Linked DNA regions of Homo sapiens. The protein of the gene in region 4 purifies or fractionates together with the protein of the main gene of each other region. This does not show direct contact. Each region holds a gene or a part of one and is shown on either strand. Other genes may lie near its edges. The genes, in order: LYPLAL1, HDHD5, SFXN2 and RAMP3.

Region 1 (7,751 bases), on a different chromosome or scaffold from region 4:
TTATATCAAATGTAGAGTCTTTTGTCCAGTAAAAAAAAAAAAAAAAAAAACCCTTAAGTACATAATAACGTAATATCAATATTCAAAATAGACTTGGAAGAAAATACCTGAAATATATGCAACAAATATTTGTCAATAATAGACAAAGTACTCTTTTAAACAAGAAAAAAATTGAAATGACAATAGGAAAAAATAATAGCAAATGACATCAGTCAGCAATTCCACTTATGTGGAGTTTTAGAACAGGCAAAAGAAATCAATGTTGATAGTCTCACTCAGTAGTTGCTTGGGAAGGTTACGGGAGTTGCTCGTGAAGGGGCATGATGGAATTTTCCAAGGAAAAGGAATGTTCTGTATCATTGTGGAGATGGTGGTTGCATTGTAAAAAGTAATTGAACTATACACCTAAAATGTGTGTAGTTCAATATAGTTTATATATGTAAATTATACCTCAATAAAGTTGGTTTTAAAACTTCAATTGATACTCTTAAATGGTAACATTTTAATGTATGTCAGCACCTACTGCTATTACTGCTGTGGGCAAAAGGATATTTTCCTACCTTTCCTGTAGAAAGGTAAATTTTTACAACTTTTATGGAAGCAACTTTGAGACATCTATTAAGACAAAAATTGTACCTTTTAATCCAACCTGTTTCTTGACTCTTTTCCATAGGAATAAAAGTTCCAGTAGATAAAAACACGTATGCATATGTTTAATGAAGCATATTTCTTAGTGGCTAAAAGCTGGGTACCAAATTAATTCCCATTATTAGGGGAATGGCTGATTAAATTGCAGAATATGCTTATCATAGGATATAATATAGCCATTAAAAGGGTAAGTTAGAACTGTAACTGATGAAAGGATTTCCATGAGATATTGTTGAAGGAAAAAAGCATGATGCACATAATAGAATCAGATAGACTACTTTATTTTTGAAAAGAAATAGTGTGCCAAGAAATAGCCTGTAAATATGCATATTTTAATTTATAAGAATAACATTGAAGGATATATTTCAGATCATTTACACAGTTTACCGAATGTAAAGGACAAGATGTGTGAGGGAGTTGGAGAGAAGAGGAGGAATGTAGAGATGGGTAAAAAATGAATAAGATTGACATGAAAAACATCTAAACAATGTATATATATATAATCTCATATTTAAAAAATTTTATGTATCTGCATAAACTTAGGGAAAACATTTAAGTTTTTATGTACTGACTTTCAGAGGTATTCATCATATCCATTTAAATTTTAGAAAATGTGTTACAAAGTAATGTTTATATGATTCTATTTGAGTAAATAAAAGATCCCCGTATATGAATTTTTGTTAAATTTTAGTCAGTTCAACTTTCTTGTTTCCAGGTTTTTTTTTTAGTTTCTCTGAGAAACTTTCCAAATATAACCTTGACGTTCAAGCCCCTTAAGTGGATGTCCATTTATTTTGGGGTGGTATGATCAATATTGAAAAATGGTGTAATTTTGTTCCCTTCCAGCACCACCCACTGGTCCTAAAGATTGTATGCATCCCAAGGCCAATGACAATTGAATATTTCTAGCTCCTTGAATATGCTGAGGTTCTACTTGGGTTTTTCACTAGAGAAGAAGTACAAAAGCATGTTCAGGTCTCACCTGTTGTCTTTTAGCCGTCTATTTTTGTTTTTCAATTTAGCTGCACATTTCATGCTTTTACTTTACTAACTTTGGTGGGTGACAGTATACAGCTAAATTTGAGATGGCAAAGTAGAGGAGGTATTGGTGTGGAAAGAATCCTGTGTCTGGGTTCATCAAAGGGAAATATTACTTGTCATTGGTTTAGAGTTCTTTCAAATTACTATAGGCACTTTTGTCACTGGCTATGTTTTCTTTGCCACTCTGTTTCTCATCATTACGTGAGGAGAAAGCAGGGCATGCCAAGGGATAAGGATTATCTTCTGTGCAACTCTTCCGTTTTTCATATTTGGAAAACATTTGTTCTCTGTGTTTATCTAATATAGCCCCCATCCCTCTCTGTGTTTGCCCACAGAAATCTCTAAGGTTTTTTTTTGTTCCCCTTTCATTTACATCTACCAACATAATACTTGAATACAGGACCCCCTTTACTCCATTACAGTTTGGAATATCTTGATGGTGTGTGTGCCTGTGCACGTATGTGTGTGTATTTTTTTTAACCAACATAGTATCCCAGAGCATGAATATACAATGAATGGATTAAGATTCACTGGTACTGTAACTGTTCTCCCTCTTAAAAGATGGAGGGAGTAGGTAAAGAGGATATGAACTGGCATTAGTAGATTTTAATGGATTAGATACAAGTATGGGATAGTTAATACAATATACATGAGAGTAGTTTTAATATGCATTTAACTTATAAAACTTAGAAGAAATTGAAATCATTTATTCAAAACACTATTATTTTGGTAATTAAAGCATCCATTTTCATATTCCCTTTTCCTTTCTTTTTTTTTGGGGGGGGGCGGTTGTTAAACAGATCATATACTCCTATGAAAGGAGGAATCTCCAATGTATGGTTTGACAGATTTAAAATAACCAATGACTGCCCAGAACACCTTGAATCAATTGATGTCATGTGTCAAGTGCTTACTGATTTGATTGATGAAGAAGTAAAAAGTGGCATCAAGAAGAACAGGATATTAATAGGTAAGACCTTTAAATGTTGGTAATTTATCACTGTTCACTTTTGTCTAATTCTATACATCAAATCTTACTTGGAACATTATTTAGAAGCACTTGTATATCATTCGATGCATTCATAGTTTCAGATAAACTTTACATATTGAGGATTTCAAAGATATTAGAATTATAAACAGCAGCGCATGAAACTTTAATTGATTTTCTTTTTGAATAATAACGGATTTTGAGACTCTTGTGGCAGTTAAAATTTTTCTTCTAGTTTAATTTTCAGTTAAGAAATTATTCATTTCAATTTTTAAAACATTTTACTTCAGTTACCTTAACTCTTATGAATATAAGTTTAAACATCTATTGCCATTAAGATATACAGTCAAAATATACCACTACATTTATGAAAATTATAATCTTCAGAGTTAATCTCACAAGAATATTTGTAAATTTTTGTTAGACTGTCTTTAGCAAGCCCTGTTCCTAAGGGAATATAAGTAGCTTTATATAAGCTCTTTATTCTGCTTAATACCTTTTTCTGTTTCTGGACTTAGCATATACATAAATTATTAAAATCTTTTTCTAATACATGCAAAAGTGAGATGGGGCATGTAGAATATGAATGGTACACGACATATTTTGGTGAAAGGGTTTTATTTCCAAATGTAACTATTTAACTTACAATGAGTTGTATTTAATGATGAAATTAAAAAGCAAATTAAGTATCCCCATTATGTTCTAAATAACATTAAAATGCACATTGAAATTCTTTATAGATGGGATTTGGGTAAACTAATAAACTTTCTTTGTGTTTATTGAAGTGCTGAACTGTCTGTTGAGTCATGAGAGACAACATGATATAATGGATAAAATCCATTCTATTCTGTCTTGGCGTTAGTTTCCACTTTGTTGAAAGCAGCGTGGCCTCTAGCATAACAACATCACCTTTCTGGTCCTTAGTTTCCTCATTATGTTTAACTCTATATTTCTGTGTTTCCATGTTTAACGTTGATGTTTAACTCTAATAGAGATAAACATGGAGCATTATGGGAGGACTAGGAAGAGTGTAGGGAAGGGATTCCCAACTTAGTCTAGGGGATTATGAAGTAGTTAGAAGATAGAATTCCAAACATGTGAATCATGTATCATTCAGTCATCATTCAATCTTTAGCAAGTATTTTTTAAGTCCCCACTATGTGCTACGCATTATTATAGATGTTCACGGGGATGTGCAGATAAGTAAAGCAAGATCTATCTGCCTTACATATTTCTTACAACCTGAAAGGGCCAATGAGATTCTTAAAGTGGTAACTATAATGCCAGCCAGGCTGTGATGAGTGCTCTAATGTGGTATAACTAATAGCTTTTCAAAGCCAATGATAGTATATATTTCTTTTTATTTCCCAGAACCTATCACAATGCCTGGCACAGAGCAAATACTCAGGAAATCTATAACAAATAACATTACCCAATCAATAAATTGTCAGTACTGTAGGAATTGAGAGGAAGAAGTAGTCACATGCATTTGGGGCTGTAAGAGAAAGATTTAATAGAAAGATGGCAGTGGCATTTAAGATGCACAAATTATTAAAATTTTAACTATTACAGTGTAGAAGTCTAGGTAGAGGGAATGATTTGTACAGTAAAGTAGAAGTGGACAGAGTAATGCTTTTTGTTTTTGTCTGTCTGGACAGTAGTTGGCTGTAACAAAGTTTGTGTCTAACTAAAAAGTACCTGTTGACTCAGATAGCCACAGTAAGAGACTAGAACGTGATGGCATAATGGTGACAAAAATGAGTTCAAATCTACAGTCCACCACTTCCTAGTTGGCTCACCACTTATTACCTACACTTAATTTTTGCTACCTAATCTGTAAAGTGGAAATAATAATATAATATCTGTTTACTGAGAGATGAACAAACTATTTGGTTTCTTCCAGACTCTCAGTAAATACTCTGTTCAGTTTTTAATCCTTTATTTTGTAGGTATAATAACATGTAATAATTGGTAAAGGATCATTAAATAATGTCTTCAAGTCATAAGAATTGTACTTTGAAAAACTAATTTGGCAGAAGGGGTAAGTAAAAGGATGAGAAGTCTGACATGGAGAAACCAGTATAATATAATGAAAGTCTGAAGTGGTGTGGTGGCAATAGGAAAAGAAAAGATCAGGATGAGAAATTGCTTTAAAAAATAAAAGTACATTCTTCATAAGCAAAAAAATAGATAAAAGGAGAAAATACTCTGAGTAGTACTCTTAATGAGTGTGTATTGAAGAGTTTATCACACTGAATGGTAACTGCTGTCCATTTGTCTCTTGCCCCATCCTCTCTCTTCCTTTCCCAGATCCATTACTTTATCTAGTTCATCTTTGAGTACTAGAGATATTATGGATTTTCTGCAGTATATTACATTTTAAAGAATCCTAGTACAACAAAATCAAATCTTTTAAAAATTTTAATTTTATTTTAAGTTCCAGGATACATGTGCAGGACATGCAGGTTTGTTACATAGGTAAACATGTGTCATGGTGTTTTGCTATACCTATTAACCTATCACCTAGGTATTAAGACCTGTATTCATTAGCTGTTTATCCTGATGCTCTCCCTCTCACCGCCTCCCTGACAGGCCCCAGTGTGTGTTATTTGCCTCTCTGTGTCCATGTGTTCTCATGGTTCAGCTTCCAACATGCAGTGTTTGGTTTTCTGTTCCTGTGTTAGTTTGCTGAGGATAATGGCTTCCAGCTCCATCCTTGTCCCTGCAAAAGACATGATCTTGTTCCTTTTTATGGCTGCATAGTATTCTATGGTGTACATGTACCACATTTTCTTTACCCAGTCTGTCATTGATGGGCGTTTGGATTGATTCATGTCTGCTATTGTGAATACTGCTGCAGTGGACATATGTGTGCATGTATCTTTATAATAGAATGATTTATATTCCTTTGGGTGTATACCCAGTAATGAAATTGCTGGGTCAGATGGTATTTCCGGTTCTAGGTCTTTGAGGAATTGCCACACTGTCTTCCACAATCCTTGAACTAATTAACATTTTCATCAACAGTGTAAAAGTGTTCCTGTTTCTCCACAGCCTTGCCAGCATATTAAAAATTCAAAATTCAAAAATTCTTGAATTTTTAATAATTGCCACTCAGACTGGTATGAAATGGCATCTCATTGTGATTTTGATTTGCAGCTCTCTAATGATAAGTGATGTTGAGCTTTTTTTCATGTTTTTTGGCTGCATAAGTGTATTCTTTTGAGAAATGTCTGAAGAGTCATTTATGACAAACCCACAGCCAGTATCATACTGAATGGACAAAAGCTGTAACCATTCCCCTTGAAATCCAGCTCAAGACAAAGATGCTCTCTCTCACCACTTCTATTCAACATAGTATTGGGAGTTCTGGCTGGGGCAATCAGGCAAGAAAAAGAAATAAAAAGTGTGTTCAAATAGGAAGAGAAGAAGTCAAACTGTGTCTATTTGCAAATGACATGATCCAATATCTAGAAAACTCTATCGTTTCAGCCCCAAAGCTTCTTAAGTGGATAAGCAACTTAAGGAAAGTCTCAGGATACAAAATCAATATGTAGAAATCACAAGCATTCCTATACACCAACAGTAGGCAAGCAGAGAGCTAAATCATGAATGAACTCCCATGCACAATTGCTACAAAGAGAATAAAATACTTAGGAATACAAAGGACTTCCTCAAGGAGAACTACAAACCACTGCTCAAGGAAATAAGAGAGGACATAAACAAATGGAGAAACATTCTATGCTCATGGATAGGAAGAATCAATATCATGAAAATGGCCATACTACCCGAAGTAATTTATAGATTCAATGCTATGCCCATTAAACTACCATTGACATTCTTCACAGAATTAGAAAAAACTACTTTAAAATTGGAACCAAAAAAGAGCCCATATAGCCAAGATAGTCCTAAGCAAAAAGGACAAAGGTGGAGGCATCATGCTACCCAACTTCAAACTATACTACAAGGCTACAGTAACCAAACAGCATGGCACTGGTACAAAAACAGACACATAGACCAATGGAACAGAATAGAGATCTCAGAAATAAGACCTCACATCTACAACCATCTGATCTTCAACAAATCTGACAAAAACAAACAGTGGGGAAAGGATTCCCTATTTAATAAATGGTGCTGAGTAAACTGGCTAGCCATATGCAGAAAATTGAAACTGGACCCCTTACTTACACCTTATACAAAAACTAACTCAAGATGGATTAAAGACTGAAATGTAAAACCAAAAATTATAAAAACCCTAGAAGTAAATCTAGGCAATACCATTCACAACATAGACATGGGCAAAGATTTTATGATGAAAATTTCAAAAGCAATAGCAACAAAAGCAGAAGTTGACAGATGGTATCTAATAAACTAAAGCACTTCTGCACAGCAAAAGAAGCTGTCATCAGAGTGAACAGACAGCCTACAGAATGGGAGAAAATTTTTGCGATCTATCCATCTGACCAAGGTCTAATATCCAGAATCTACAAGGAACTTAAACAAATTTACAAGAAAAAGAAAACCCCATTAAAAGGTGGGCAAAGTACATGAACAGATGCTTCTCAAAGCAGAAACAAATCTTAAATGAAGTTAAACACACATATAAAAACAGTAGCAGGAGAGGTTACCTGTTTGAGCACCTATATTTTCTTAGAGGGAATCATGTCTTACCAGCCAGATTGCCCATAAACCTCAAAAAAAGTCACCTGGGAGAAAAATATAACACAAGACTTGATTTTTCAATGTCTGTAAGCCCCCTCAAACCCCAAACTTGGGGCTCACTGAATGAAGATAATTTGTTTTTCCATTTTCTTCTTGAGAAAAAGATGATTTTTAAAAATCAGTGCCTTTGATATATTTTCAAAGTCCGACAATGTGATTGATTAAATCAAGTCTCTTGTTGAATTTTTCTAATGCTCCAGGGTAGTTTTCTGATTGACAGCATATACAGAAGTATTTCAGCATTCATTGTAGAAAAGCTAGCAGAAATGACCAGTCAATTATAGGCACCAAAAAAGAAAAAAAACTATTATTAAACATTTTAAGTAGAATAGCTTATAATATATGCATATAT
Region 2 (8,069 bases), on a different chromosome or scaffold from region 4:
CTCAAGCAGCTTAGAGTCCAGGGCATCGAGCTTGTACACGTGTGAGGCCGGAACTTCCCACAGTGTATCTTCTGTTCTGCTACCTTTCCTGAAAAGAACTGGCTCACCTCGGATTCCTGCCAGGAATGGCTGCTGTTTTATGGGGTTTGGGCCACAACTGAGGATGACCGAAAGCAAGGCAGGCCTGGGAGAAAAATGTGGCTCACTTGAGATGAGCAGGGCCCACAGATATCAGTGCTGGGGCACCAGTTGAACAGAACTGTGGTCATATAGGTGTGGCTGGGGGCTGGGGATAGAGAACAGGGAGCAGCATCTGTTCTGGGATGGGAAGTGTATGGTCTCCAGAACATACTGGTCCAGCGTCTGCTCAGAGACATGCTAACTCCTAAAGGAGAGCTTCCTAAAGTGGGTCAGCAGCATGAGCATCCTGGGGAGCTGATCAGATATGCACATCCAAACTCCAAAGGGAGCGCCATCAATCTGGGTTTTTAGGAGACCTCCAGGTGATTCTGATGGATGCTCAAGTTAGAGAATCCTGGACCTCTGAAGCCAGGTAGCAAGGTGGGGCAAGTCAGCGCATAGAAGGCTACAAATTCCAAATATAGTGTAATCCAAGCACCGAAGCCCTCTCTGAGACAAAAGCTGATTTAACAAACCCCACGAGTAACATGTGATTGAAGACTGGCGAGGCCCTTCTAATTAACATCCACGGTCCATTTGTACAACAGACGGTACAAAACATAATCTGGATAAACTCAGAAGACGTGCTCATATAAAGATTTGGGAAGTCTCCAAATTCAATCAAGTGAGCAGAGCAAATATTCTGAACCTGAATACGAAAGAACATCTTAATGTGATTGTGTCGTAACATGACTGGGAATCAAAATAAAGATGCGTTAAGCAACAGCAGGGCAGGGGTTCTGCTTACAATGTCAGCCACAGAGCCTGAGTTTGTTAGTGTTTATTCAGCACTGCCCAAAGGATAGAGCTAGGGGTGGCAGAATATGTGCTCCGTGCATCCGGCAGGATGGGAAGACACCTAGAATAGCACAGGGTAGACGTGAGTGCCCTTGTTCCTGGAAGTGCAAACTCTTTAACATGGCAAGCCTTAGCTGTGAGATTTCTCCTTAGAGGATGGTTCTTACCTTTTACTGGCTTATGAACCCAGAGAATCTAATAAAGACTTATCACGTACACACACAGTCTTTGATTCAATAATCATGTTGGAATCTCCCACAGTGCACCTTCTGTCATCTTTCCCCGAAACAAACAGACAAACAAACCAAACCAACTAAAACAACAGCAAAACCCAGCCCATTTCTGGTTCCTGCTTTGGATGGGCTGGAATGGTCTTATGGCATTCAGTCCACAATGGAGGAAGAATGAAAGCAAGGCAGGCCCATGTGGGGAACACTGCTGACTTAGGCTGAAACTCCTGAAGATTAATAACACTAAGTATGACACAGTCCTGATCACCAAGAATATTAGTTATCTTTTGCTGTATAACGAATTATCCCAAAGTGTAATGACTTAAAACAACAAACCTTCAGTATCTCCCTGTTTCTGAGGGTTAGGAATTCAGGAGTGACTTAGCTGGGTGGTTTTGCCTCAGGGTGGTTCATGAGGTTTTGGTCAAGGGTTCCGCCAGGAATGGAAGCTCCACCTCCAAGAAGATTCTCTCTCCTGACTACTGGTAGGATGCCTCAGATCCTCACCATGTGGGCCTTTCTATAGGGCTGCTTGAATGGCCTCACCACATGACAACTCTACTATGCGTCTAGCTTTCCTAGAATGAGTTATCTAAATGAGGGCAAGGTGGAAGTCACAGTATCTTTTATGACCTAGCCTTGGAAATCAACTACACTCACTTCTGTCCCATGTTATTTATTAAAAAGTCAGTGAAGTCCAGCCCACACTCAATGGGAGGGGAATTAGAATTAGACTCCAGGTTTTTTTTTTTTCTTTTTTTTTTTTTGAGACAGAGTCTCACTCTGTTGCTCAGGCTGTAGTGGCACAATCTTGGCTCACTGCAACCTCTGCCTCCTGAGCTCAAGCGATCCTCCCACCTTAGCCTCCTAGAATAGCTGGGACTACAGGTGTGTGTCACTATGCCTGGCTAATTTTTTTTTTATATATATATTTTGTGGAGACAAGGTTTTGTCACGTTGCCCAGGCTGGTCTGGCATTCCTGGACTCAAGTGATCCACCTGCCTCGGCTTCCCAAGTGTTGGGATTACAGGCATGAACCACCATACCCACCCAACTCCAGCTTTTTTTTTTTTTGGAGACATAGTTCCGCTCTGTCGCTCAGGCTGGAGTGCAGTGGCTCAATCTCAGCTCAGCTCTCTGCAACCTCTGCTTCCCAGGTTCAAGTGATTCTCCTGCCTCAGCCTCCCAAGTAGCTGGGATTACAGGCACACACCACCATGCCTGGCTAATTTTTGTATTTTTAGTAGAGACAGAGTTTCACCATGTTGGCCAGGCTGGTCACGAACTCCTGACCTCAGATGATCCACCTACCTCGGCCTCCCAAAGTGCTGGGATTACAGGCATGAGCCACTGTGACCGGCCTTTTTTTCTTCTTTCTTTTTTTTTTTTTTTTGAGATAGAGTCTCACTCTGTTGCCCAGGCTCGAGTACAGTGGCACGCTCTCAGCTCACTGCAACCTCCACCTCCCAGGTTCAAGCGATTCTCCTGCCTCAGCTTCCCAAGTAGCTGGGATTACAGGTGCATGACGAGCTAATTTTTGTATTTTTAGTAGAGACGGGTTTCGCCATGTTGGCCAGGCTGGTCTTGAACTCCTGATCTCAGATGATCCGCCTGACTTGGCCTCCCAAAGTGCTGGGATTACAGGTGTGAGCCACCGCGCCTGGCTATGCTTTTGAGGAGCCGATTGTCAAAAAAAACTGTGGGCATGTTTAAAAGCCATCATACCAAGAAATTTCTAATGACTAAATCAGTTTCTAGGTAGTTTAATAGAAGGAAGGGATTAGGAACATTGCAATCCTAGAGAGCTATGTCCCCTGGCAGGGTTTAAGTGTCGGGCTATTGTGAGTTTGACTGACTTGAATTAGTCTTCCAAATTCTGATTAGCTGTAGTTGAACTGAATTAAGATCTTGCCCTTCAAAGCTGAGGACCAAAGGACACCGCTAACTACTTCTTCATTTTATTATTATTATTATTATTTTTTTTTTTTTCAAGACGGAGTCTCACTCCGTCACCCAGGCTGGAGTGCATTGGCGCAATCTCGGCTCACTGCAACTTCTGCTGCCTGGGTTCAAGCGATTCTCCTGCCTCAGCCTCCCGAGTAGCTGGGACTTGAGGCGCCTGCCACCGCGCCTGGCTAATTTTTGCAGTTTTCAGCAGAGACGGGGTTTCACCATCTTGGCTAGGTGGTCTTGAACCCCTGACCTCCTGATCCACTCGCCTCAGTCTCCCAAAGTGCTGGGATTACAGGTGTGAGCCACCGCACCCGGCCCTATTTTATTATTTTTAAAATAGAGAAGGGGTCTCCCTATGTTGCCCAGGCTGGTCTGGAACTCCTGGACTCAAGTTTTCCTCCCACCTTGACCTTCCAAAGTTCTGGGATTACAGGGGTGAGCCACCGCACCCTGGCCTGCTAATGTGTGAGCTAGTGCAGTCTCTGTCCATATCCTCGACTCCCTCTCTGCTAGTGCTAAGTACATTGTAGGGTCCCGCGTTTTTAGCATAGCTATACCTATGAATGGGCCAAAGAATCTGAGGGCATCCTACACATTTCAAACGGTGGGAATGGAGACCTCTTTCCTCCAGCAGAATCTCCCCTCATGACCGGGGGACTACCAGATCCAGCTCTGCTAAGGGCCTCCACGGACGGAGTCGGCTACCTCTCCACTTTCAGTGACCGAAATCCATTCTTTGTTCATTCACCCTTGTGTCTACTCCGGGAAACGCGCAGCGGACACAGTCGTGTTCCCTAAGTGTTTGCTGACTTAGTCATCTGGCCCTCTCTGGAGTAGTCATTTTGTACCTTGTACTACATTCGTGCCTCTACCTCTCCGCAGTGCGCGCGGGGGCGGACTCACGTGCGCAGTCTCCCTATGCGCTGGGAGGGCGTCAGCAGGTTTACAGAAACAATGAAAGACTTAACAATTGGCGCGCGACGAGCGTCCCTTGACTGGCAGGGGCCCAGAGGACCTGAACATCACTAAGGGTCTGCCCCAGCGGCCCGGCCCTGAAGTCAAGGTTGAGACCCCCGGCCCAGACAGTCCGCGAAGCTGAGGGAGGCCGGCCTGGGGCCTGCCGCGCAATGTTACCGGGATCCGCAGGCACAGGGCGATAGTACGGACGCCGCCGCCCAGGCCGTGCCCATTGTGCGCCGCGGCCAGCTCACCGCGATCTCGGTCTAGGAGGCGGCGGGACCCCGCACTTCTTCCTTGCAACGGAGCCCCTTTGGCCTGCGGGTCGAGTTCCATAGGCGCCCGACGGGCTCCGCGCGCTTACAGGACTACAACTCCCGTGATGCCGCGCGCGCCGACCGCTGATTGGCTGTGCAGCGGACGGACTCGCGGGGGGGGGGGGCCGCACGCCGTGCACGTGCGCACGGCGACGGCCGGATGGCTGCGTGGGGCTGTGTGGCTGCGCTCGGCGCGGCGCGTGGGCTTTGCTGGCGGGCGGCGCGCGCGGCTGCGGGGCTCCAGGGCCGCCCCGCCCGCAGGTGCTATGCTGTGGGCCCCGCTCAGGTGAGGACGTCCGGGTTCTGGCCGAGCCACTCGCCACTCAGGGCCGGAGGCGGGGCGGGGAGCCGCGGGGAAGGAGGGGCGGCCGGGCTGGTATCCCAGCCTCCTGGGAACTGCCTGGACCGTCGTCGCGCCCGAGTGCATCGCGTTCTTGCTGGAGGGCGGATGCGCCCTGCCTTCCTCTGACTCGCTGGCGGCCTCGGAAACGCTACTCCCGCGGGAGAGCGCTCGTGGGACGGCCTGGGCCAGGCTGCTTGTCAGCCCCTGCGCTTCCCGGCAGTTTCCGCGTCCCTGTTTTCCCTGCGCGTCTTCTGATTTCCACCATGAGGACGTTTGGGTCGTGATTTTCATCTGCATGTGGAGGAAACTGGGCCGCGCGCCGGGAGCCGCGCCTGCGGGTGCTCCGCCCCCAAGTGCCTGTGGGTTTGGTGCGGGCCTTGGGTTCAGTTCAGCTCGCTGTGACCTCGACTGAGCGCTGGAGGCTCCGCGGGCGGGAGCAGGAGGGCTGGAGCCGGCGCCTGCTGTGTGCCCGGCGCGGTAGTGATGTGTGAGCCTCCCCGCAACTTCTGAGAAGGTGTGACCTTGTGTGGTCAGGAAGCCGAAGCTTGACGAGTTTTCAAGTACGTTTTCTCAGGTCCTGCAGCTGGGAGACGGCACAGGACACTAAACCAGGTTGGTCAGATCCACGGCTCTCACGCTCCCTTGGGCCGTTTTGCCTTTTCTGGAAAAAGGAATCACTTTGTCTTCTAAACGCACAAGTAATATTTTACATTAACATACGGATTTCACAGTAATCCTTGCATTTTTTTTTTTTAGACGGCATCTCTGTCACCAGGTTGGAGTGCAGTGGCGCAATCTCTGCTCACTGCAACCTCCGCCTCCCGGGTTCAAGCGATTCTTCTGTCTCAGCCTCCCGAGTAGCTGGGATTACAGGCACCCGCCACCACATCCGGCTAATTTTTGTATTTTTAGTAGAGACAGGGTTTCACCATGTTGGCCAGGCTGGTCTCGAACTTTTGACCTCAGATGATCCTCACATCTTGGCCTCCCAGAGTGGTGAGATTACAGGCATGAGCCAGTGCACCCGGCCAAATTACTTGCATGAAAAAAACACATAGTGCTTACTTTGTGCCAGGCACTATTCTAAGTACTTCACAGTTATTCGTATAATCTTTATAACAACTCCGAGGAAAGTACTATTATTAGTCTTCCCATTTTATAGATGGAGCAGAGGCACAGAGAGGTTAAGCAGCTTACCCAAGGGCACACAGCTGGTAAGTGGCAGAATCTGGAACTCAGGTAGTCTGGTGCCAGAGTCTAAGCTCTTAACAGCTGTATTATTTTTATGATTTTTAAATATGGAGCAGCTAAGGTTCAAAGCAGCTGAGTGACTTGGCCAGTGTCACATAGCTAGACGTGACCAAGGTGGAAGTTTGAAATTAGAATATGTTGATAAAAGGACTTACAAACTGTCAGGATATAAATATAAGGAAATATCGCCCTTATTTATAACTGTTGTATTGGCTCTAGCATCTCTGCAGAGTCCCGAAATGTCTCCAAGTGACTCTTCCGGTAGAGCAGAAAAAGAAGAATGCAGGATGACAGAGTTTGAGCACGAGCTTTAGAATTGAATCCTGTGCAGTCTGTTAGCGGCTTCACTTAAGGCAATTTACATAGCTTTCCAAGCTCAGTTTCCCCATCTATGTAATGGATCTATTACTTGTAATCCCAGCTACTCGGGAGGCTGAGGCAGGAGAAGCCCTTGAACCTGGGAGGGAGGTTGCGGTGAGCGGAGATCGGGCCATTGCACTCCAGCCCGGGCAACAGATCCTGACTCTTATCAAAAAAAAAAAAAAAGAAAATTAACCTTAGTTTAACTTTCTTGCTTTACCAAGTTTTTAATTTTTAAAATTTTTTACTCTTTTGTAATAGCACTTAGTTTAAAACACAACACATTGTACAGCTGTACTAAATATATCTTCATTTATATCATTGTTCCATAGCTTTTTTCTTTTGTGTGTGTGTGTGTGTGTGTGTGTGTGTATGTGTGTGAGACGGTGTCTAGCTCTGTTGCCCGGGCTGGAGTGCAGTGGCGCCATCTCGGTCCACTGCAACCTCTGCCTCCCAGGTTCAAGTGATTCGCCTGCCTCAGCCTCCCAAGTACGTGGGATTACAGGCGCCTGCCACCACGCCCAGCTAATTTTTGTATTTTTAGTAGAGACGGGGTTTCACTGTGTTGGCCAGGCTGGTCTCGAACTCCTGACCTCATGATCCGCCTGCCTTGGTTTCCCAAAGTATTGGGATTAGAAGCATGAGCCACCGTGCCCAGCCAGCTTTTTTTTTTTTTTTGAGACGGAGTCTCGCTCGCTCTGTTGCCCAGGCTGGAGTGGAGTGGCGTGGTCTCGGCTCACTGCAAGCTCTGCCTCCTGGGTTCACATCATTCTCCTGCCTCAGCCTCCGGAGTAACTGGGAGTATAGGTGCCTGCCACCACGCCTGGCTAATTTTTTGGATTTTTAGTAGAGATGGGGTTTCACTGTGTTAGCCAAGATGGTCTCGATCTCCTAACCTCGTGATCTGCCCTCCTTGGCCTTGCAACATGCTGGGATTACAGGCAGCTTTTTTCTATTAAAAAAAATTACAGGTGTGCACCACCACGCCCGGCTAATTTTTTGTATCTTTGGTAGAGATGGGGTTTCACCATGTTGGCCAGACTGGTCTCGAACTCCTGACCTCATGATACGCCCGCCTTGGCCTCCCAGAGTGCTGGGATTACAGGCGTGAGCCACAGTGCCCTACCTTAAAAAAAATTTTTTTTTTTAACTTTTGTTAAAAATGAAGACACAAACACCTACTAGCCCAGGCCTACATAAGGTCGGGTCAGGTAATTGATATCACTGTCTTCTGCCTTCACACCATGTCCCATTAGAAGGTCTTTAGGGGGCAGTCATATGCATGGAACTGTCATCTGCGATAACAGTGCTTTCTTCTGGATATCTTCTGAAGGACCTCTCTGAGGCTCTTGAGGTGTCACTCTTATCAGAAATATGTCCATTGTGGTTTGCTTGGTTTCTTTTTTTTTGTCATAGGTTTGCTTGTAAACAGATAATGTACCATAAACATTCTTCTCTAGTAATGAAAACCTTTTGGCGTTGGAGTTCATGTTTCAGACTTTTTAAGGAACTTGAGGTCTGTAAAAGCTGCTGAACCCTTCACTGTGAATTTTCTTGGATGTTCTTTTCTTTCTGTGGCTACCTTTTCTCTTGCCTCTTCTTCAGCTATGAGTTCCTGTTCCATTATAATCTTAAGGGACCATTGTATATGCAGTGTGTCATTGACTGAAACATCGTTA
Region 3 (7,107 bases), on a different chromosome or scaffold from region 4:
TAATTTCAAGGTTAGCAGCACTCCCAAAGAAGCTGTCCGGGCTGGGTGTGGTGGCTCATGCCTGTAATCCCAGCAATTTCAGAGGCTGAGGCGGGCGGATCACCTGAGGTCAGGAGTTCGAGACCAGTCTGGCCAGCATGGTGAAACCCCGTCTCCACTAAAATACAAAAATTAGCCAGGCGTGGTGGCAGGTGCCCTGTAATCCCAGCTACTTGAGAGGCTGAGGCAGGAGAATCGCTTGAATCCAGGAGGCAGAGTTTGCAGTGAGCCGAGATCGCGCCACTGCATTCCAGCCTGGGCGACAGAGCAAGACTCCATCTTGAAAAAAAAAAAAAAGAAGCTGCCTGACCAGGGGGCAACGAGGAGGAGGATGTGGAAGGGTGATGAGCCCCAAGGGGACAGAGTCCTTTCCCCCTTCTTTTTCCTGAGTTCAGCTAGAATTACATGGGTAAAAGTTTCCATTGCTTGGGAGAGGAGGAAGCGAAGAAGAAAGAGGTATAGAAGCTTCCTTTTGATCCAAGGTCTTTTCCTCAACCCTGGCTGGAACCAGAATCCTAAAGGTTTCCTAACTTTTCCAAATGATTTGCTTGGATGTCTCCTCCCTGAGAGGGCCTCAGCTTCTGGTCTCCAGGGGACAGGGGTTGAGGAAGCAGCTAGAAGACATTGGCCTTTGCTACCCTTTTTCACTTTTTTCCCCTGAGGTCCAATCAACCAGTACCAGGGTGTAAGTATGAGGCATTCATTGTCCCACCCCCCAATCTACCCTGGCCTTCAGGCCTTGTTGGCAAAGGGGAAGGAGGACACAAGTGTGCACGTAGCTAAGGAGGAGCTGGTGAATATGGGAATAGACTGGTCCTTGCTGAAGTGGGGCATTTAGAGACCCTTATTGAAGTAGACATAAGGCTCAAGTTCTCCATACTTGGCCTTGATAGTGTCTTGGAGCTTCGGTTCCAGATAGGAAACTGGCAATTCACTGAAAAGAGAGAAGTGGATTATGAGCATGCCACCAGGAACAAGCAGTAAGTTACCCTCAGATGAATATCACCTCCAAGAAGCCCTCCTGATTTTTCCATCTAGGATTATTATTGGCCTCTGTATACCACAATGTTGCTTTACCATTACGCAGGCCTGACTTCATTCTCCTTGGGCTATGGTTCTTCGTTTCAACTTCCATCTTCTCCACAAGATTACAAACACAGTGCTTGGGACACAAGAGATGTCTAGCAGATGACCATGGAAGTAGTATTGAACTAGAGTACTGAGGAAGGGGAGACTGGAATTGTCTGGGTATATATTCAAGCTACACTTGTCTCCTGGGGTCAGTCACCCTCCACCCCCTAGTCTGATGTATCCCTTCCCTTTTCCATCATCCCTTCTCCCTGCTTCCTCCTTCTTGGACACACAAAGGAAATAGAGGGGTTTCGGTTGTCAGCCCTCTGCCTGTCCCTTTATTTATTTATTTATTTATTTACTTATTTATTGAGATGGAGTTTCACTCTTGTTGCCCAGGCTGGAGTGCAGTGGTGCAATCTCGGCTCACCGCAACCTCCACTTCCCAGGTTCAAGCAATTCTCCTGCTTCAGCTTCCCAAGTAGCTGGGATTACAGGCATGCACCACCACACCCAGATAATTTTGTATTTTTAGTAGAGACGGGGTTTCTCCATGTTGGTCAGGCTGGTCTTGAACTCTCGACCTCAGGTGATCTGCCCACCTCGGCCTCCCAAAGTGCTGGGGTTACAGGCGTGAGCCACCACGACCAGCCCCCTTATTTAATGTTAACGACCAACGGGGAACGGTGGCTCACGCCTGTAATCCCAATACTTTGGGAGGCTGAGGCGGGCAGATCACCTGAGGTCAGGATTTCAAGACCAACCATGGCCAACATGGTGAAACCCCATCTCTACTAAAAATACAAAATGAGGCCAGGCGCGGTGGCTCACGCCTGTAGTGCCAGCACTTTGGGAGGCTGAGGCGGGCGGATCACAAGGTGAGGAGATTGAGACCATCCTGGCCAACATGGTGAAACCCCGTCTCTACTAAAAATACAAAAATTAGCTGTGCGTGGTGGCACGTGCCTATAATCCCAGCTACTCGTGAGGCTGAGGCAGGAGAATCGTTCAGGGAGTCGGAGGTTGCAGTGAGCCGAGACTGCACCTCTGCACCCCAGCCTGGCGACGGAGTGAAACTCCATCTCAAAAAAAAAAAAAAAAATGAGCTGGGCATGGTGGCAGGCACCTGTAATCCCAGCTACTCTGGAGGCTGAGGCAGGAGAATCACTTGAACTGGGAGGCGGAGGCTGTGGTGAGCCGAGATCGTGCCACTGCACTCCAGCCTAGACAACAAGAGTGAAACTCCATCTCAAAAAAAAGAAAAAAAAAAAAGTTAAAAACCAGATCCAGCCAGAGGAGAGCTTCCTAATAACCCAGCTGGCAGGAAGAGAAAGTCTGTTGTTGCTCCCCCACCTTCTCTTCAAGGCAGTGCTTGCTCCACTGGGAGGGAGCAACCTTATTCCTGTCCCTGGCTTCTCCTGCCCCTCGCAGATCTGTTTTCGTTTGTCAGAATTCACCAGGGTTAAGAGGCCCAGCCTTTAGGCTGATGGACACTTGTCCTCAGACAGGTGCTGCCCTTCCTGCCCCTTCCCTGTCTCCTTCTGGACAGCAGGCAGATCAGGGAGCGCGCTGGCAGCATGGTCAATTAAACCAAGTAAGGAATGAACAGCAGATACCATTTCTGTGGGAAAAGCCCACACGCCACTGGCACCATGAAGATGAGGCTGCAAGAAAGGAGAAACCAAAGCATCAGGGGACATCTCCCCACAGGCCCGTCCATCCCCCATCCCCAAGGGAAAGGAGCAATGCCCAGGCACCTGGCCTGCCTTCCCAGCTGGCACCATATCCTCTCCCTCCAACCCTCCTCCTGTTCCCGCAGTGCGAGGATACTCATTCTGGCAGGGGGATAAAACCAGTACCCTCCTGACCCCCATCACTCATTCCCACCCTTACTGCATTGTTCAAGCAGAGGAAGAAGACAATGAAGTAAACAGGGACTGTGAGCAGCAGGCCTAAGGAGCACAGGCACTGCTGGCATCGAGCGAAAGGAGCGACGAGGAGGGAGAGGAGAAACTTGGAGGGGGAGGAGCAACATGGAGGGGGAAGAGCGACATGGAGGGGAGGAGCATCATGGAGGGAGAGGAGGGACATGGAGGGGGAGGAGCGACATGGAGGGACAGGAGCAACTTGGAGGAACAGCATGGAGGGTGGGGAGCGACTTGGAGAGGGAAGAATGACTTGGAGGTTGAGGAGCAACTTGGATGGGGAGGAGCGACTTGAAGGGGGAGGAGTGACTTGGAGGGAAGGAACTACTTGGAGTAGGAAGAACTACTTGGACAGGGAGGAGCAACATGGAGAGGGAGAAGGACATGGAGGGGAGGAGCAACATGGAGAGGGAGGAAGGACACAGAGGGGAGGAGGGATGAGGAGGGAGAGGAGCAACTTGGAGGGGGAGGATTGACTTGTATCGGGAGGAGTGACCAGGATGGGGAGGGGCACTTTGGAGTGGGGGAGGGGCACTATGGAGGGGGAGGAGTGAGTCTGTGGATTCTGAGACCTGCTTCTTTATTGGTTGAACACCTGGGCTGTCAGAGCACAGTGAAAGGCAGTTTCTCCAGCTTCACTGTGCATATAACTTCAGGAGCTTATTAAAATGCCAGGTGCCAACTGAGGGGGTCTGGGGAAGGACTTCAGAGTCTTTACTTCTAACAAGTTATCAGAGGATGCCAACGATGCTGGCATGGACCAGGGTTTGGGAGGCAAGGTCTTACAGGACGCGGGACTCTGACAGACCTGGGTTGGTATCCCAGTTTTACCACTTACTAGCTGTGCCATCTTGGACAAGTTACCTCAGAGACACAGAGGGAGGACAACCTACTTTTTAGGGCTACTGCAGACCACTTTGCAGTGCCTACTTTGCAGGGTTACTGTGAGGATTCAATGAGATATGTATGTAAAGCACCCAGCCCATGGTAACTACTCAATTAGCAGAAGTTGGTATAGCATAATGTTAGACTGTTGATCAAATCTCAGCTCCAGCAGTTACCAGCTATATACCCTTGGGCAAGTTTCTTACTCTGTCTAAGTCTCAGTTTCTTCATTTGTAAAAGGAGATGATAATAATATGTAGATTTCTAAGGCTGGGAGAATTAAGTGAAATTATAGATATGAAACACTGGGTTCAGTGGGGACACAGAGAAAATATACAGTCAGTGTTAGCTGTTAGTGATGCTGTCATTAGTCTCGTGGCCCTGAAATGCATGGTGAACGCTAGGACATCTCCAGTTAATGGCAGATACCTAAGAACCCTGACGTGACTGGTGGCATTTCCCTCCTGTGTGAGTCTGGGACACATGACAGTCCCAGCCAAAGCTATGTCTCCTCGTTCTTATCTCTTCTGTAAAACTGCTCCAGACAGCCAGGCGCAGTGGCTCATGCCTATAATCCCAGCAATTTGGGAGGCCGAGGCAGGTGGATCACTTGAGGTCAGGAGTTCGAGACCAGCCTGGCCAACATGATGAAATACAAAAATTAGCAAGGCATCATGGTGCGTGCCTGTAATCCCAGCTACTCAGGAGGCTGAGGCAGGAGCATTGCTTGAACCTGGGAGGTGGAGGTTGCAGCGAGCTGAGGCTGCGCCATTGCACTCCAGACTGGGCGACAGAGCGAGACTCCATCTCAAAAAAAAAAAAGCAAAAAACAAAAAAATTGCTCCAGACTTAAGGTCAAAGGAGAGACCCTGGGATGGGAGGGCACCTCAGCACTGGACTTCCTACATGGACACGTGCATAAAGTCTAGCCAGCCTGATGCCCTCACAAAAGATGGGGTGAGAGCTTTCCAGATGGACCACAGGTATTCTGAGCTTGACCACTTTTAAAGTCAGGTAAAGGAGTACACGTTCTCCAACACGGGCTAGACAAGACGACACATCTTGAGTGCTCCAGCCACGCAGAACCCAAATCATCAAAATATGATACTTACAAGCACCCGCTCAGCATGACCTGCAATGGGGCGTGCAGGACCTTGACTTTCTGTATAAAAACAAATAAAAGACAGATCCACATGGTACTTCTATGCCTTAAGGTGAACCCCAACCCTGCTCTGCCATGGATCAGCCAGCTAGAAAAGCCCACAGGTGGCTGGGCGCAGTGGCTCATGCCTGTAATCCCAGCACTTTGGGAGACCGAGATGGGCAGATCACAAGGTCAGGAGATCGAGACCATCCTGGCTAACACAGTGAAAACCCGTCTCTACTAAAAATACAAAAAAAATAGCTGGGCGTGGTGGCAGGCACCTGTAGTCCCAGCTGCTCGGGAGGCTGAGGCAGGAGAATGGCATGAACCCAGGAAGCGGAGCTTGCAGTGAGCCAAGATCGCGCCACTGCACTCCAGCCTGGGCGACAGAGCGAGACTCCATCTCAAAAGAAAAAAGAAAAACCCACAGGCAAGGACCCCCTGGCCCTTAAAGAAGGCCTTGTTCTCTGCAGACCAGGTAAGGAAACTGGCCATGGTATATCTAAACAGGAGGTCAGTGGAGATTGGTGTGGGCTTGAGTGAGATGACAGCATGGTAGCTAAAGGGAAGGATGGGTGGGGGAGGGCAGGTCAGGTATCCCTAGGGACAGATGTGGCTGGACGCACTCTGGGCAGGGAAAATGCCAAAGCAAACCCTACATACCTGCATGAAGTGCAATTTCTCAAGCCTTTCCATGATGACTGGCAGCAAGACTGGAAGAGACCAGGGAGAAGCTGAGGGGAGGGCTGGGAGGCTCTCCCCAGGACTCCTTCTGAAGTCAGACCAGGAACCAAGTGGTTCCCTCTCCTTCAGCAGAAGCTCCAGAAAATACTTACCACTAGGCAGAACAGAAGAGCAAGTAGGCATGACCACCCCCAAACTTTCTCCCCAAAGTCCTGGCAGAACAGTGCTTCCCAAGCTTCTCAACCTGCACACTTGCAATATCAGGAAAACATGTGCTGCTAGGTCCAAAGCTACCTTCTCAAAACTCAAAAATGTATTTGTACGTTCGTGCAAACAAATTTTGCAATACACCCACTGCTGGAAGCAAACCAAAGCAGGGAATTTATTTTCTCTATCACTCTCCCTAGCACCCCACACTGTGTCTAACATTAAACACAAGGGCTTGACAAGTATTAATAAAATGAAAATAACTTTCTACCCCAAACCTTGGATGAACTGATGTTCTAGGAACTAGTGTGGTTCTTCTAGGCTTACAGCAATCAAGCAAAGCAGTTTGAGAAGCATGGCTGTAGAAGGTGGGCCCCACCTCCCACCCAAAAGCTGAGTGTGGCTGAGACCTCCACCCTGTGTCACAGGCTTCCCCAGGATGGAAGGGCTTCCCCATCTTACTCATCCCAGGAGCTGACATGGTGATCCGAGAAATAACTACTTGGGTGATGCCTATGGCCGCAGCTCTCTGAGGGCAGAAAATAGTAAGTTGTCAGAAATGATGTATCCAGTGTACATGTGCTGCACCAGGGGGCTGGGTCAGCATCATGGCCAAGTCTGAGATGGTAAAGGGGAAGGGAAGGACCCTCCAGTTGCTGAGTGACCTCACTTTATCCCCTCCCACCTAGCCAGGTTTTTATGGACCAGAAATGATGGAGAAAAGAGAGAAGGGGCCTGTTCTGAACAGAGAAACATGGGGAAAATTTGATAGGGAGTGAGGATGGAGCCAGAAAAGGCTTCTCAATCCTATATTGGTGCCTACTCTGACCACTAAGGAGGGGACAGGGTATGAGAGGGAATTCCCTCCTCCCACCCCAAAGGGAGGCCTCTGCTCACCCGGGAATGACCAATCTCATTTTCATTCCTGTCCTTCACGCAGATTCCCTTTATGAGCTCCCTAAACACAGACAGGAGTTAATGGACTTGGGAAAGGGGTGATGGAAGCCTGCCAGCCACATGACATGCCAGGGGACCAAGGCCAGGCCACTTAAGCTCCAGGAAGCCACCTCCTGTAGCCTGGGCCTTTGACCTTCCTTCTGCACTCCAATAAGCAGTATCTTAGGAGTGATCTAGGGCAGTGGCTGAGAGCGG
Region 4 (7,751 bases):
CTTTGGGCACCTGGACCCATCTTGCTCCACGCTCCTTCTGCTACCCGGGCAGCTCAAGTCCTCTTAGGTGATCCCGATGGGGCCTGTGCATTTTTTATCCCCCTATAGCCACTGCACCATCCCTTTCAGTGGTCCTGATGCAGCCCTGGTCATGTCCCCTTCCCGCCACTGACATCGGAGCTCAGGTCTCCTTCTGACTGTGGCTGCCTGTATGCGCAGCCCCTATATGGCCTGTGCATCTTGGTGAGACTTCCTGACACTCTGTCCTGGGTTCTGCCCCATCTATTATATGCTCTATCTTCAGTCACTCCCCTAGTTGGACTGAGATCCCTGTGTCTTCCTCTTGCCCCCTGGAACCCAGATGGCAGGTCCTGAAGACAGGAACCAGACCCTCTCCCTCTCCCCTTGTCCAAGGATCCAACACAGTCCGCAACACATGATAGCGGTGGTCCAGGATGTTTTGCTAAATCTTTGGATAAATTTCACTGGGTTGACAGTGGGTACTGAGCCACCATCTCCATGTGCAGACCCTGTGGGACCATGTGGGGGACCTGTGCTACATGCAGGGATGGGACAGACACAGAATGAGCACATGGCCTTTCTGTGAAGAGAGGTGAGCACCCCAGAGGCTCACTCAGGGGTTGGGGCCCTAAGTGGGATGTGTGGCCTTTCAGAGAATCCAGGCCTGCAGCTGTGCTGATGAGACAAGCGAACGTGGGGGTCAGGGACATTCCAGGTGCTGGAAACCATGCAGAGTGGCCAGAAGGCCCTGAAACACCTGTTCTGGGAGAGCCAGTCACTGACCCTGTGTCCAGGGGCCATGGTGGTGACTTCACCCAGCCTGTGTCCTTGCCATCTGCTTACACATGGCAGCAGGCTGACCACTGAGCCACAGCCTGTGTGCTTCCCATCTCCAGGGTTCTCTGGGGCCTCAAGATGCCCTGGGTCCTGGGGAAGCTTGCATGGACAGAAGGGGAGATGTGAGTGCCTACACAGGCTTCTCAGACCACCTGCTGGGACCTGCAAGTCCTCTGTCCAACTTTACCAGCTGTGACCCCCAGGGGCCCTTCTCAGTGCTGTCAGCCTGGATTCTGAGGTATAGGTTTGGGCAGTCACGAAGGGAAGAAGGTGCCTTGAGTCTGGGAACCCACGACCCTGAACAGCTGGCAAGCCCTTTTGTGTTCTCCTCTGTGGGGTTCCAGCTAACACCTGTCCTCTGTATGTGCTCCAGGTGTTCTGCTGCAGGTGGGGGTGGGCTGAGCATGACAGTTCCCTTAACCCTGGGATCTGGACCCCTCCAGCCTTCCTTTGGCCTTAGACAAGCCACTCCCTTTTGCTGGCATCAGACGCTTGTTCAACCAAGGGGCTTCCAGGGTCTTCCCTAATGTTAGCATTAAGCAGGCTATGACTCTTGAGGAGTGTCTGGGGCGCTGTGTTCTGGTGGAGCAGGTCCCTGCACCAGAAAGTGGTCCTGTCTAAACCTGCCATTTCCATATTAAAGTGACTTATTCAGCACTTGCTCAGTGCCCAGGGTGAGCCACACATGGAAGAAGATCAGACTCTGAAATGCTCACTGCTTTCTCTATCATTCAGCCAAGACTTATTGAGGGAATGAATGAATGATACGTTCCTGGAGGTGGCACTGAGCATTTCAGACTAAGTTAGCCAGCTCAACCTCCTTGTGAGGTGGGGCCTGTATCCCTCATCTTGCGGATGGGGAAACTGAGGTTGAGCTGGTAACCAGTGAAGTGTGGGTGTGAGCCAGGTCTGTCCCATGTCAATCTGGAACCATTTTCTTATCTGCTTCTTCATGGTATTTCCTCTAGCCCAGCACCAGCCGCCGGAACACAGATGACAGGGCTGTGTACACACATGCTCATGTATGCATACACATATGCACTAAGATATAGATGGCAGGGCTGTGTACCTACACACACACACACACACACACACACACCAAGACACAGACAGCAGGGCTGTGCGTGCACACACACACACACACCCGAGACACATATGCCTGGGGTCTCTCTTGAGTATATGATGAGCACCAAAGCAGAGGTCAGGTGAGGGAAGTTTAGGAGCAGGGAGGTCCTGTCGTCTGGAAATGGGATGACCGTGGAGACAGGCCCTGAAGGACAGGGGGCATTGCTCAGTGGGAGGGAGGATGTTCCCCATGGGGAAATGTGTGGAGCAAAGGCATGAGGAGGAAGGGGAGGGGATGTTTTGGTGGGCAGAGGTTGGGAAGGGCAGTGGGGAAATCCTGGGACAAGCAGCTTGTGTCAGACCCTGAGAAAGTCCAAAGGACTCATTCCCATTGCTGGGAACATGAGTCCCTGCAGTGGCCTCAGCCCCTGGTTTCCCAGAATTGGAGGGGGTCTTTGACCGGGAGGGGTTGGTCTTTACTGGCCTGGAGCCCTCCTCTGCCGCCCCTGCAGGCAGTGGGATGGTCCCCAGGTCTTAGAGTCCTCAGGATGTTCCCAGGCCCCTGGGACTCCTAAGCTGGAACTGGAGCCTCTTTGCCAGCCCTGATCTGCCTGAGACCCTCTCACCACCTCCCAAGGAGTTTGGCCCAGGGTCTCACTGCCTGATCCCTGCCTGTGCCACTGCCTGTGAGGCGGTGAAGTGAAAAGGTGGACTTGTCCTGTCTTGGGGACAGGTCCCTGTGTGGAGCCTCCTTTCTGCACTGACAGGTAGGTCAGGGTGGAGGGTGAAGGACTCCGCTGGAACGGTCTCAGGCTTGCAAACGGAGCCTTGCTAGTGAGTACTCAAGTTATGGCCCCTTGGGCCTCCCCTGTCCTGGCATCCCCAGTGTGAACTGTAGTGGAATTCTTATGGCTGTCCCCTCTCCAGGTGGGTGTCCCAGAGCAGGCGGCTGCAACGAGACAGGCATGTTGGAGAGGCTGCCCCTGTGTGGGAAGGCTTTCGCAGACATGATGGGCAAGGTGGACGTCTGGAAGTGGTGCAACCTGTCCGAGTTCATCGTGTGAGTGCCACTGCTGGGCGTGGGATTTGCTCTGACCACAGCGCTGCCCACTGCCCAACCACTGCCTGACCACAGCCTGACCGCACTCTACCCAAGGCCTCACCCATGCCTCACCCACAACCCACCGTAGGCCACCCACAGCCCTTTCATGTGCTGCCCCACACTTTGCCCAGGGCCCCAACCACGCTCCTATTCACACTCTGCTCTTGGCTCTGGCCACCCCACCCACATCCCCCTGGCACATCACTCACGGCCCCGCCCATGCCGTGCCCCTGCCCACGGCATTTGTGCTCCCCACACCCACAGCGGGTTCCCAGCTTCCTACCCCCCATTCCGCATCCTCACTCTGATGTTCTAGCAATTCTACACTGTGCCTCTGCTTCTCCCTCTCCTCTGTTATTTAGGAATCCTCCCCATGCCTGCTTTTCCTCCTGATCCAGATTAGTGCCCTGCCCTGGGAGTGTCCAGTTCGGGGGTTCCCTGGCCTGGGGGTGCCCTGTCTGGGAGGTGCTCTGCCTGGAGGGTGCCCTGCCCGGGGAGTGTCCAGTTTGCGGGTGGCCTGGCCTGGGGGGTGCACTCTCCCAGGGGTGGGTGCTGCCCTACCCCAGGGGGTGCCCTGGCCTGGGGGATGCCTTGCCTGGAGGGTGCTCCACCTCTCCTTACAGCTGGAGCTGGGTGGACATTGTCATGTGTCTTTCTTACAGCACCAGTCATGGCTGGGTCTGTCCTCAGTGGTCAGAGGACTTAGAGGAATTGGGTTCCAATGGTTTATATCAGGTGTAATTGTGGACAACACCTCATAGTGAAGGGAGGTCCCCTTGTTCTAGAAGCTTCCCAAGCTTTTCATCTCCTTACCTCCTTGGAAATTGCTCATGGCCTCACAGTCCTCTGCCCCACCCCACTCCACCTCTGGCTTTGCAGTCTTGTGCCACCCCCTGGTGGCTGCTGCCAGACCCTAAATGTGCTGGCCTCATGCTTTTGCATGTTAGCACCCCAGCCCCTGTCTTCCGTAGAGACACTGACCATGGCCCTGCCCCAGGAAGCCTCCCCGGCCCTGGCCATTCTAGTGGCCCAGCAGATGGGGGCTTCTTGAGGCTGTCACATCTGCAGCCCCACTCTGTGGGGGAACTGCTTGCTGAACCAAGTGGAATGGAATTCTGAGTCTGCTGGGAAGGGGTGCTGGGATTCAGGAAGGGGTTTTGCAGGCTCCTCCTGGTCCTCAGTGAGCCTGGACACAGGCCTGGAATGGACCCACTGGTGGGGGTGGAGTCAGGGAAGAGGAGGTCATAGCTTCGTAGCTTCTGGTCTTGCTCCTCTCTGTAACCCGCTAAAGCCTTGGTAAAGAGACTAAATAGAGATGTCCAGCCGTGGATTGGGAGGACAGGAGTGGAGGCAACCCGATGGGCATTTAGGAGCCAGTGAGTGAGTGGGCAAGAGCCACTGACTGAGTGCCCTTGGTGAAGTCAGACCTGATGCTGGAAAAGGGGAGCTGGGAACAGCCAGGTTGACATTGCGGAGCCCTCCCACGACCCGGCCGGCAGCACCAGCTCCCAAGAGAGTGGCAAGAGTAGCTGAGAAGCAGTGAGGTGTCCAGAGCCCTCCTCCACCCCAGCTGGACACTGGAGGTGTATTCTTGGAGCTGGTGACACCAGGGTTTCTGGGCCTTCCCATGTAATTGAGAACGTGGCACAGTGTCCCAGAGAGGGAGGCTGGAGAGAGCGGCTGATACGCATTATCTTTTGCCACTGGGTCCAGGAGGGTGGTCTAGGGTAGGATTGGAGCTGTCCTTTCTGAGGAGTGAGACCAGCCAAGAGGAAGGACCTAGAAGCAGTGACCCCCCCAACCCCTGGAAGCTCTGGGGACAAGCTCTTCTGCAGGGTCCCAGTGTCTCATCAGCTCTCAGTCCCCACTCCCAGTCACGAGTCACTTCCAAGCAGGGTCCCTGGAAATCTGACCTAAGGCTCTGACCCTGAAGGACAGAGACCAGAGAGATGGAACCAAGCAAACCCGGGGGCCATGCACCAAGAAGAAAACTGCAAACGTCACGACTGATATCTTCAGAGGGCAACAACTATCTCTCATGTGATGAATGAGAACAAAGAAAGAGGTTTAGAAATGGAAGATGCAATAGAAGTGAAATGGAATAGAAAGGTTGGAAGGGAGATGTTGAGGAAATCTCCCAGGAATAGGAGAGAGAGACAGAGAAGATGATCAGGAGGTCAGTGGTCAGTCCAGGCGTAACACCAAGATAGTAGGAATTCTAGAAAGAGAACAGGAGAATGGAAGGATAAAGGGCCCTTGCCAGGGGCTGAGGGCATGAGCTTGCAGCCGGTGAGGGCTTGCCCGGTACTAGCACGAGGGAGGAAAATGTCCCACATGGACCCTGGAATATCAGAGCTGTGGAAACAAAGGAAAACTTCTACACCTATCCAGAAGGAGGAAAAAAATGAGCTCTAGGTTGGAGATGAGGGGATCAGAGGCCTTCAGGCTCCCCCACCGCAGCCCTGGAAACCGAGGACTGTGGGATGCAAGGACCTGAGAATTTCGGACTGTGATTTCTCAGCTAGTGTGCTATTTCCCGCCAATTTGTCCACTAATTAGGGAGAAACGAAAATACTGTCAGACGTGTGGCACCTCCAGCATCTGATTCCCACATACCTTTCTCAAGCTCTGGCGGCTGTGCGCCAAGGTGTGGAGCAAACCACGACAAAAGAAGCTATGAGATTTGGGGAGCGGAGCCAAGGCAGGAGAGGGAAGCCCCAGGGAGGGCGGTGCCCCAGCGTGGCAGTACACCCTGGGTGGAGGCAGCCTGGCCCAGGTGGAGGGCACTTGATGCTTACCTGACATGGTGACTGCCTGCCCATGCCCTGCAGCCCAGCTCAGTCAAGAATGAAGGACACTCCTTTCTTTCCCCTGAATGTTCATTCTGCTTTGGTCCCCACTGAAGCAGGGTGGGCCTTGGTGAGCTTAGAGGAGAGGTGGCTTGCTCCCCTCAATAGGACTGGTCCACATGACGACCCCATCAGGAGTCGAGTCATGGCTGGGAAGACCCTATTCCCCAAACTCGCCCATGGCCTGCCTGTGGCCTTCCCTGGGGAGGAGTCTCATTGCCCCTCGGGGCAACCAGAGCGTGTCCTCTCCTGGGAACCTCCCTCCAATAGCAGCAATGGGCTCCTTCTGTACCCAGTTAAGGAGCATTGCTATGGGATTTCCAAATGCAACACTATATTGCCTGGGAACACACTCAGGTGGTGAAACATAAAGGAAGGTGGGCAAACACCCCAGAGGTGGGTGGGGGGAGAGGGAGTCTGACTGGGGGGTTTGCCCGGCTTCCAGCCTGCTGGGCTCCTCTCCTTCCCATCCTGGGTTGTGGTGCATCTTTTTTAGGGAGAGTGCTCTGGGGAGCCTGACTGAAGGAGGAGTGGAGAGGCCCCAGATTATCCAGGGGATGAATAAATCATAAGTAGTTCCCGGTTTTCTAGAGAAGCACTGAATGTGGACCTCTCTAGATATGTGACAAAAATGCAGATTTTGTGGATCCACAGAGATGGGTGCTGTGCTCAGCTCTGCCCCAAACCTAACAGCTGGGGTGGGCTCACCCCATGACCTCCTCTGTGCCAGGCACTTGCTGGGGCACATGGACCTCAACTCATTTGGTTCTCTCAACCACCTGATAGGATAAGTGTTATTAAACCCACTTACAGATGAGGAAACTGAGGTCCAGGGAGGATAAATGACATGGCCCATACCACAAAGATGGTGAGTGGCTGAGCTGGAGTTGGAGAGGCCCTGCCATGTTGGCTCTGCAACCTGAGCCTGAAGCCACTGTCCATGCTGTCTTCTGGGATTACCTCTGCTCCGTGGGCTTCTCCATGTGGCCTAGCTTTGGCTGGGAGTGGGGTTTGGGAACAGCAGGGGCTTTCAGCCCTGCCTCACCTCCTCTTGGGACGGTTCTGGGGCTAGACATCACTCCTCTTGCCCTGTAGACTCGCTGTCCACAGAGGGTCTTCTCCAGGGTCTGTCTGGCTCATCTCAGCCCTGGGGATGGTTGTTGGGGGGTGGCATTCCTGGGTAGCAGTTCAGTGGAATGACTTTGGAGGCACAGAGGTTACCGCATGTGATTCTCATCACACACATAGATGCTGGGAACTTCTGAAGGTGAAGGCTGTTGCAGGGTGTTGTTAGACGGCTCCCCAGCTCCTGGATCAGCTGGCGGGGGGTTGGGGTGGACAGCAGGCTACTGAATCTGAGGCCCTGTGGGAGAAGCAGGTCAGGGAAGATGAGGGTTTGTCCATGGACCTAGCTGTTGAGGTGTCTCTAATGCCTGGGCATGTCTCAGGTGCTGCATTGTGGCTGAGGCCCAGGAGAGCCAACAGCTTTGTACTTGGATTCGAGGCTGTTTCTTTTGCTCTGGCTGTTCTCTGCTGACACTACCTGGAAAGGCACAGGTGTGTGTCTGACCTACATTCCAAGGTGCTGAGAGCCAGCCTTGGATCAGTCAGGAGCTGGGCTGAGTGACTGTACCTGGGCTTCCCAGACCCTTCCTGGGGCATGGGGTTGGGAGACCAGGAGAACCCTGGGTGGAGTAGGTCAGAGTCCCTGTTTCCTACCCCTTTCTGATGCTTTGGGAAATCTACGCCCAGATGATGTTCCATGCAGGAGGCAGCTCTTTCCTGTTGATGGGCCAGATCAGTGGCTCCCTCCTGGGACAGCGCGGGAAGGAGGAGATGGGCTACTTTCCCATGGGGAAGCCGAGGCAGGACCCTTC

What was found.
Region 1: the proteins of RAMP3 (region 4) and LYPLAL1 purify together in Homo sapiens (co-immunoprecipitation; 2 studies listed by BioGRID and IntAct, with this or other methods). This does not show direct contact.
Region 2: the proteins of RAMP3 (region 4) and HDHD5 purify together in Homo sapiens (co-immunoprecipitation; 2 studies listed by BioGRID and IntAct, with this or other methods). This does not show direct contact.
Region 3: the proteins of RAMP3 (region 4) and SFXN2 purify together in Homo sapiens (co-immunoprecipitation; 2 studies listed by BioGRID and IntAct, with this or other methods). This does not show direct contact.

Annotation. Positions count from the first base shown.
Region 1 is NC_000001.11:219,190,593-219,198,343, forward strand, and holds part of LYPLAL1 (lysophospholipase-like protein 1), read left to right. Parts: intron 1-2,489; coding exon 2,490-2,659; intron 2,660-7,751.
Region 2 is NC_000022.11:17,155,779-17,163,847, reverse strand, and holds the start of HDHD5 (haloacid dehalogenase-like hydrolase domain-containing 5 isoform 2 precursor), read left to right. Parts: upstream 1-4,570; 5' UTR 4,571-4,596; coding exon 4,597-4,722; intron 4,723-4,855; exon of another isoform or gene 4,856-5,391; intron 5,392-8,069.
Region 3 is NC_000010.11:102,731,529-102,738,635, reverse strand, and holds part of SFXN2 (sideroflexin-2), read right to left. Parts: intron 6,914-7,107; coding exon 6,853-6,913; exon of another isoform or gene 6,829-6,852; intron 6,485-6,828; coding exon 6,418-6,484; intron 5,778-6,417; coding exon 5,728-5,777; intron 5,083-5,727; coding exon 5,033-5,082; exon of another isoform or gene 5,028-5,032; intron 2,775-5,027; coding exon 2,727-2,774; intron 974-2,726; coding exon 874-973; 3' UTR 1-873. UniProt on the Homo sapiens protein: Mitochondrial amino-acid transporter that mediates transport of serine into mitochondria. Involved in mitochondrial iron homeostasis by regulating heme biosynthesis.
Region 4 is NC_000007.14:45,174,459-45,182,209, forward strand, and holds part of RAMP3 (receptor activity-modifying protein 3 precursor), read left to right. Parts: intron 1-2,850; coding exon 2,851-2,983; intron 2,984-7,751. UniProt on the Homo sapiens protein: Accessory protein that interacts with and modulates the function of G-protein coupled receptors including calcitonin gene-related peptide type 1 receptor (CALCRL), calcitonin receptor (CALCR) and G-protein coupled estrogen receptor 1 (GPER1).